2 linked regions of the Homo sapiens genome follow. The protein of the gene in region 2 purifies or fractionates together with the protein of the main gene of each other region. This does not show direct contact. Each region holds a gene or a part of one and is shown on either strand. Other genes may lie near its edges.

Evidence for each region.
Region 1: the proteins of SRSF4 (region 2) and ZNF70 purify together in Homo sapiens (affinity purification with mass spectrometry; one large-scale study listed by BioGRID and IntAct). This does not show direct contact.

Annotation. Positions count from the first base shown.
Region 1 is NC_000022.11:23,748,313-23,752,610, forward strand, and holds the start of ZNF70 (zinc finger protein 70), read right to left. Parts: upstream 2,801-4,298; 5' UTR 2,399-2,800; intron 1-2,398.
Region 2 is NC_000001.11:29,157,901-29,161,400, forward strand, and holds part of SRSF4 (serine/arginine-rich splicing factor 4), read right to left. Parts: intron 2,896-3,500; exon of another isoform or gene 2,662-2,895; coding exon of another isoform or gene 2,618-2,661; coding exon 2,475-2,617; intron 2,111-2,474; exon of another isoform or gene 1,964-2,110; intron 1,587-1,963; coding exon 1,474-1,586; intron 1-1,473. UniProt on the Homo sapiens protein: Plays a role in alternative splice site selection during pre-mRNA splicing. Represses the splicing of MAPT/Tau exon 10.

The DNA.
Region 1 (4,298 bases), on a different chromosome or scaffold from region 2:
CACTGCAGCCTTGACCTCCCCGGCTCAACTGATCCTCCAACCTCAGCCTCTCAAGTAGCTGGGACTACAGGGGCATATCAACACATCCAGCTAATTTTTTAATTTTTCTGTAGAGATGAGATAATATTATGTTGCCCAGGCTGGTCTTGAACTCCTGGGCTCAAGCAGTCCTCCCACCTCTGCCTCCCAAAGTGCTGGATTACAGGCATGAGCCACCATGCCCAGCAGAAATGATTTTTTTTTTTTTTTGAGGTGGAGTCTCACTCTTGTTGCCCAGCCAGGAGTGCAATGGCCCAATCTCGGCTCACTGCAACCTCTGCCTCCTGGGTTCAAGCAATTCTCCTGCCTCACCCTCCTGAATAGCTGGGATTACAGGCACCCGCCACCAGGCCCGGATAATTTTTGTATTTTTAGTAGAGATGGGGTTTCACTATGTTGGCCAGGCTGGTCTCGAACTCCTGACCTCAGGTGATCCGCCCACCTTGGCATCCCAAAGTGCTGGGATTACAGGTGTGAGCCACCACGCCCAGCCCAGAAATGATTTTTTTAAATGATTTTTCAGCCAATAGACCGACTGGATATAAAAAAAAAAGAGCACTGAACTAAAGTATTTTCTTTTTCCAGAATGGAGTGCAGTAGTGTGATTACAGCTCACTGGAACCTCTGGCTCCTGGGTTCAAGTGATTCTCCTATCTCAGCCTCTTAAGTAGCTAGGACACCATCCTGGCTAACACGGTGAAACCCTGTCTCTATTAAAAATACAAAAAAGGCCGGACGCGGTGGCTCACGCCTCTAATCCCAGCACTTTGGGAGGCCGAGGTGGGTGGATCATGAGGTCAGGAGTTCAAGACCAGCCTGGCCAAGATGGTGAAACCCCGTCTCTACTAAAATTACAAAAATTACAGCGCGTCTGTAATCCCAGCTACTCCGGGAGGCTGAGGCAGGAGAATCGCTTGAACCTGGGGGGCGGAGGTTGCAGTGAGCCGAGATCGCGCCACTGCACTCTAGCCTGGGTAACAGAGCGAGACTCCATCTCAAAAAAAAAAAAAAAAAAAAAAAAAAAAAAAAAGCCGGCCGTGGTGGCAGGTGCCTGTAGTCCCAGCTACTTGGGAGGCTGAGGCAGGAGAATGGCGTGAACCCAGGAGGCGGAGCTTGCAGTGAGCCGAGATCGCGCCACTGCACTCCAGGCTGGGCGACAGGACGAGACTCCGTCTCAAAAAAAAAAAAAAAAAAAAAAAAAAAGTAGCTGGGAATACAGGCTCTACAGGCACGTGCCACACCTGGCTAATTTTTGTATTTTTTGTAGAGATGGGTTTTCGCCATGTTGTGCAGACTGGTCTCGAATTTCTGAGCTCATGCGATCCACCCATTTTGGCCTCCGAAAGTGCTGGTATTATAGGCGTGAGCCCCCTCGCCCAGCCCTAAAGTATTTTCAAAAATTCTTTGATCACTTCAACTCCTCTCACCCTCCCCCTCCTCTTCAGCAACCCATAATCTCCAACTCTTCCAGCTCTCTCACTCAATTTGTGCTTTTCGACCTCATGAAATCCAAGCCATTTTTACTGTAGTTCTCCTTTTCTAGCTCCACCCCTTCTCCATCCAGCTTAGACTCTCCATACTATGCGCATCACTTCAACTCTCACGCTCTAGCACCATGCTCCTCACCTCCTCGTCCGGCTGCAACTAGCCGCTAAGTCCCAGTCTTCTCGGCCAGTTCCTCCTAAGTTGTTAAATGTTGCCAAGAAAAATCATACAACTATGTATGGCACCACGACAAATTTCGAGTTTCCGATTTCAGCTGGGACCTCAGCTCTGGCATTCTATGACCTCCTTATTGCCAATCCCTCTCTTCTCGGTCTTCACCTTCCCACCCCATCTGGCACTGCTCTCCAATACCTCCTTCTCAAAACCCTTCATTTCAGAGGTTGCAAATTGGCAGCCTGAAGATCCTGCTATGTTATGTTTGGCTCTCGAAGAGTTTGGCTTTTCCTGTTCATTTTCCTTAGTTACCAATATTTAAAACTCAGTAGGTTTCTGGCTTTCTCTTGAAAAACGAAGATGTGACAATATCCCTTCACCCGCCCACATTGCCTACCTAGGTGCATGAAAGCTTTGAGCTACCCCCCAACCCCATCCCCACCCTCGCTTTCTTCCCAATTTTCATGGCTTCCAAGTTCTCTTTCTTGATATCTTTAGATTGCAACTCTTCCTCCGCCCACCCATTAAGTCCTGGTGTTCTCAAACTTCCCTCCGTAGAGGTTTTCCATTCCCACTATATAGCCCCTACACCCTGAAGTCTCCACTCAGAAAAAAGTTGGCAACCCTTTATCTGTCTCCCACAACATGATAAGTGTTTTTGGACCGAAAATGCAAAGATCTGGAACTCCATGCTTCCCACCTCTGTCGGGGCCTTCTCCGGGTCCTCCTGCATCTGTCATCCCATCCTCCAGAGAGTCCCTAGGGCCTGGGCACCCTGCAAACTCTTAGTGCAGTCAAGGTTTCCTGGCTGGGGGCCCAAGAGTTGCCACGGACCCGCACACGCTGCCCAGGCGGCGACGTGGCGCCCCTACAGGCTTCCCCGCGATTGGGGACACGCACACCCAGGGCCACCGGAGGGACAGGTGGTCAGGCGGACTCAGGTCACACCGGCGGACGCGGGGCCACTCACCTGGGCCGGGGCGGGGCAGCTCACCTGGGCCGGGGCGGGGCCGCAGGCGGGCGGGGCGGGGCCGCACCTGAGCTGCTCCAACCCGCGGCCGACGCGGCCGACGCTGCCTGGCTCCACAGCAGCTGCTGACGCGGAGCCCGCGGCCGCCCGAGCACCCAGAGCCCCGCCCCCGGCCCGCGGGCACTTCCGGGACCACTCTAGGCCGCGCGGAGGTCCCGGCGTCTCGGTGGTCCCACCGCGCCGGTTGTCGCCGCGCGAAGCCGCCCGGGCCCCGGGACACAAGGACCCGAATCAGGAGAGTCTCTCCAGTCGGCATGGTGGCTCTGGCCGTCCCCGAAGCGCGTGCTGGACGTGGGGGAAACAGAGATGGGCAGGCGTTGGCAGGAGAGCAGAGGAGGAAACAGGTCCGGACGGGCGGGCCGACCTCGAGCCGCCGGCACTCGGGGCATCTGCGCTGGTGCTGGGTGCAAGCCAGAAGCCACTGAGGCAGCTGGGGTCTTCAGGGAAAGGAGAGTGGAGCCCCAGAGCTGTCGACCCTGTCACTGTCCACAGGCACCGGGGTCCTGTTAGGATCCCCCTCCCCCAACCTGCTTCAAGGGTAGCCCTGTTCCTGTCTGCCCTCCCCGCCCCCACAGAAATAGAGATGAGAAGGGGCAGGCGAAGAACTAGGAGTGTCTGCGAGACCATCCCAGGACCCTGAGCCCCCCAACTCTCTGCATCCCAGGGCTGACTTCGACATGAAGCGCCTCCTCTCAGGCGCACCGGGAGGGAAGAGGAATGTGTTCTTGAAATGGCCGCCCCCTTGGCCGGGCGCGGTGGCTCACGCCTTTAATCCCAGCATTTTGGGAGGCGGAGGCGGGTGGATCACGAGGTCAGGAGTTCGAGACTCAGCCAGACCAACATGGTGAAACCCTGTTTCTACTAAAAATTATCCGGGAGTGGTGACAAGCGCCTGTAATCCCAGCTACTGAGACAGGAGAATCGTTTGACCCTGAGAGGCGGAGGTTGCAGTGAGCCAAGATAGTGCCATTGCACTCCAGCCTGGGCGACAGAGCGAGACTCCATCTCAAAAAACAAAAAAAAAAAAAAGAAAAGGAATCTCCGCCCCCTCCTTGCTGCTGATGGCAAGACTGGCCCCTCCACCCAGTGTTCTGCCCATGACACCCCCCCCTCAGGTGCAGCTGCCCAGCTTGTGGGAGAGCTTCCCTCCGCAGACCTTGGCCCAATCACAGGACATCAGGAGAACACACTGTCCCTGGGAAAAAGGATTCTGCCCCAGCCGCCCACCTGCCTTCAGCACCCTCAGCCTTGGCGCTCGAGTGCCTCCAATGCTACCCACACACACCTGCCTTCCTGCCCCATTAATGCTCTGTCGGGCCTTGGGCACAGACTCCAAGGGGTAGGCAGTGGCTGCCCCTCCCCAAGCCAACAGCCTGAGCTCCATGGGGACCAGCCACCCTAGAGCCATAACCCTTGGACCATAACCAGCCATGCAGAGTTGGGGGCGGCAAGGGCTGGTTCCTTTTTCTCCCTCCGGCTCCTCAGGTCACAGGAAGGTCAGGCTACCAGTTTGAGCCCCCAGGGGGCCATGGTGGGGGAGTCTGGGCCATGCCCCAATAGTCTCAGGTGC
Region 2 (3,500 bases):
GGCTCACGCCTGTAATCCCAGCACTTTAGGAGGCCAAGGCAGGTGGATCACTTGTGGTCAGGAGGAGCTCGAGACCAGCCTGGTCAACATGGTGAAACCCCGCCTCTACTAAAATACAAAAATTGGCCGGGCATGGTGGCATGCACTTGTAATCCCAGTTACTCAGAGGGCTGAGGCAGAACTACTTGAACCCCAGAGGCGGAGGTTGCAGTGAGCTGAGATGGCGCCACTGCACTCCAGCCTAGGCGAAAGGGCGAGACTCCATCTCAAAAAAAAAAAAAAGCTGGAACCAGTACACTGGATGGCCAACATTAGCACTGAATCTTAATTCTTGACACCAAACCTCTTTCAGGACAAATATTCCATCAAAAACCTTATGAAAAAACATGGGTCAGATTGTCAATTTCACCAGTAAGGATACACACTGAAGCTGATGTGAATTTGCATGTTATAGCAAATGCTGCAGGAAACACTGATGGTTTCAACCATTTTATTGACTGGTGAGTAGCTACACTGCCATCTTCTTGTAACCCTTTTTTTTTTTTTTGAGACAGAGTCCTGCTCTACTGCCCAGGCTGGAGTGCAGTGGCATGATTTTGGCTCACTACAACCTCCACCTTCCAGGTTCAAGCAATTCTCTTGCCTCAGCCTCCCAAGTAGCTGGGACTACAGGTGCCCACCACCACGCCCGGCTAATTTTTGTATCTTTTTAAGTAGAGACAGGGTTTCAAACATTCTTTACAGAGAGAAATTTCGTTATCACACATTTGGGCCAGGTTTCTGTCATGTCAGCACTTGAGGAGGCTGAGACTGAAGGATCACTTGAGGCCAGGAGTTCGAGACCAGTCGGGGTAACATAGTGACAACCAATCTCTGAGCCATGATTGTGCCTCTGCACTCCAGCCTAGGCAACAGAGACTCTGTAACAAAACAAAATCAGGCCGGGCGCGGTGGCTCACGCCTGTAATCCCAGCACTTTGGGAGGCTGAGGCGGGTGGATCACAAGGTCAGGAGTTCAAGATGGTGAAACCTCGTCTCTACTAAAAATACAAAAAAATTACCCGGGCATGGTGGCGGGTGCCTGTAATCCCAGCTACTCAGGAAGCTGAGATGGAGAATTGCTTGAACCCGGGAGGCGGAGGCTGCAGTGAGCAGAGATGGTGCCACTGCACTCCAGCCTGGGCAACACAGCGAGACTCCATCTCAAACAAACCAAACCAAACCAAACCAAACCAAACCAAACCAAACCAAACTCACAAATGTGTCCTTAGAATGATGGTCCCACAATGTATAGCAGGAATATAATTCTGATATATTTTGTACTCATATGGCACTTTAATTATTTCCAGCTCTGTGCAGGCTTTCAAACATATAACACTGTATTTTGTGTATGCCTGGGCCTGCACAAATCTACCTGTTTCCCAACTTTAACTCCTGCCCAACCTTACCCCAAAAGGTTAATGGGGCCCAAACCTTTAGGTCTTGCCAGCTGCACCGACTTGACAAATTCTCCACAATAAGTCTGTACTCTGTGCGAGTAGGAGGGCCATATTTATCTCGGCCACTTCTTCTATAACCATATCCACCTTTGGAAGGTTCAAATAAATAAGATTATTTCAGTGGAAGAAAAGGAAAAAAAATGACACAGCACACACCCCCCCTTAAATATATTATTTACCCCCACCCCAAACAATAGCACGTTTTAACTCTATTCCCACCCTTAATTCTAAAATAGATTTTTAAAGAAGCAATCAGCTAAATATAAACATTTAATTTAAAAAGTTGTAAGTATACATATTCATTAATATTTGCATTTAAGATTAACATGCATAAATTTAAAACTATTAACAATTTAACAATTTAGAAATAAGTAACCAAATTACTAAATCAGTTACTGGTGTTACTCACAGTGATTAAACATTTTGTGAATATTTTATATGGAAAAAAAAAGATTTTCAGGCACCTATTTCAGTTTAATCTCATCTGTGTCTAACCCTTGGGATCCTCACCACCCAGGTCTAATGGGGAAAGGTTGCGGTCGTCACATGGCTTCCTGTTTTTGGTCAGCCAAGGGCCACAATGGTTCAAAGAGCCACGCATGGAAAGGTAACCCAAGGTCAGCAAATGGAACAGGCAGTCATCTTAGCCTCAAAGGATTCTTTTAATTAAAACATTGAGGTCTTTGTTAAATCTATGTTAAACAATTGCATTACAGAGAAAAAAACAACAACAACACAAACACACATCATTAAACATATTTATAAAGTATTATAAACAAGAAATTGTCATTAGTTTAATTAAAATTAAACATTATCAAAGGCTTATTTGTAATTCTACATTTTTAAAAAAGATACATAATTTACAAAATAGCTTAAACATCAATACGTTTAAATGTAATATCAATTAATTACTTTAAAAATTAGCATGATAACAAAAGCACGTTACTGATAAAAGTATGCCCTTTGAATGCTTACTGCGTCCAGAACCGTAACTGCCATCTCGCCGTGGGCCGCGGGCATGCTCAACAATTACTCGCTCACCACAAAGGTCTTTGCCATTCAGTTCATAAACAGCATCATCTGCATCACGCAGATCATCAAACTCCACAAAACCATATCTAGAAGAGAGCAAAGAAAATACTGGTTGGTACCATTTTGACATCCAGCTTCACTAACATTAAAGAGAAAGCAATGAGGTTCATGCTTAGCAAAGGTTAGGTGGATTTTGCAAACTAAGGATCAACTTTGTCTTCTCTTCAGGTGAAACCACTTTGCTTTGTGCCAACAGGCACTGAAAGAGGTAGGGAGACTTCTCAAAGTAGACTCCTATCTTTCTAGGAGGAGGCTGGCTACATACACAGGACACTTCTTTTGTTTCCCAAGTAGTTGGTGGCAACTGCAAAGACAGGGATGCTTGGTATAAGAATCCAAAATATATAATGCTACAAGACATATAACGCTCTTTCAAACACCACATAAAACTCATCTTTTTTAGCTTTAAAAGTGGTATCTTAGAGAACAATTAGACCTACATTCAGGCACTGTGTAATAACTGTTGAATCATGTGAAAGTAAAAAACTTTTTTTTAAGGTTCCTGTTCCTCTACGTAAACACATCTGTCACATGTGATTATCAGTGAAAAAAAGACTGGAGCTGTTTACTTCCCTGTGAGATTCCAAATTCATTTCCATGAAGTTTTAGAATAGGATGGAATTCTCTGAAATCTGTATACAACTCGTGCAAACTTCTTTAAATGGTATTGCTACATCTTTTCCAGCCAAGAGGTTTGGTGGCTTAACATATAACCAAAAGAACCCCCACCATCCTACTAATGCCTATTAAAGAGTACAATTTATATAGCTAAAGTGCAAAATTTGTAAGATACTTATAAGCAAGGTTATACAAATGCCCTGTAAATTATGTTTTCAAGAAATATTTAGTTTGGTCTGACACAGCTGTGAAAAGTCCAGCTTTGTGACCATTGCCTATATTTAAAAACCA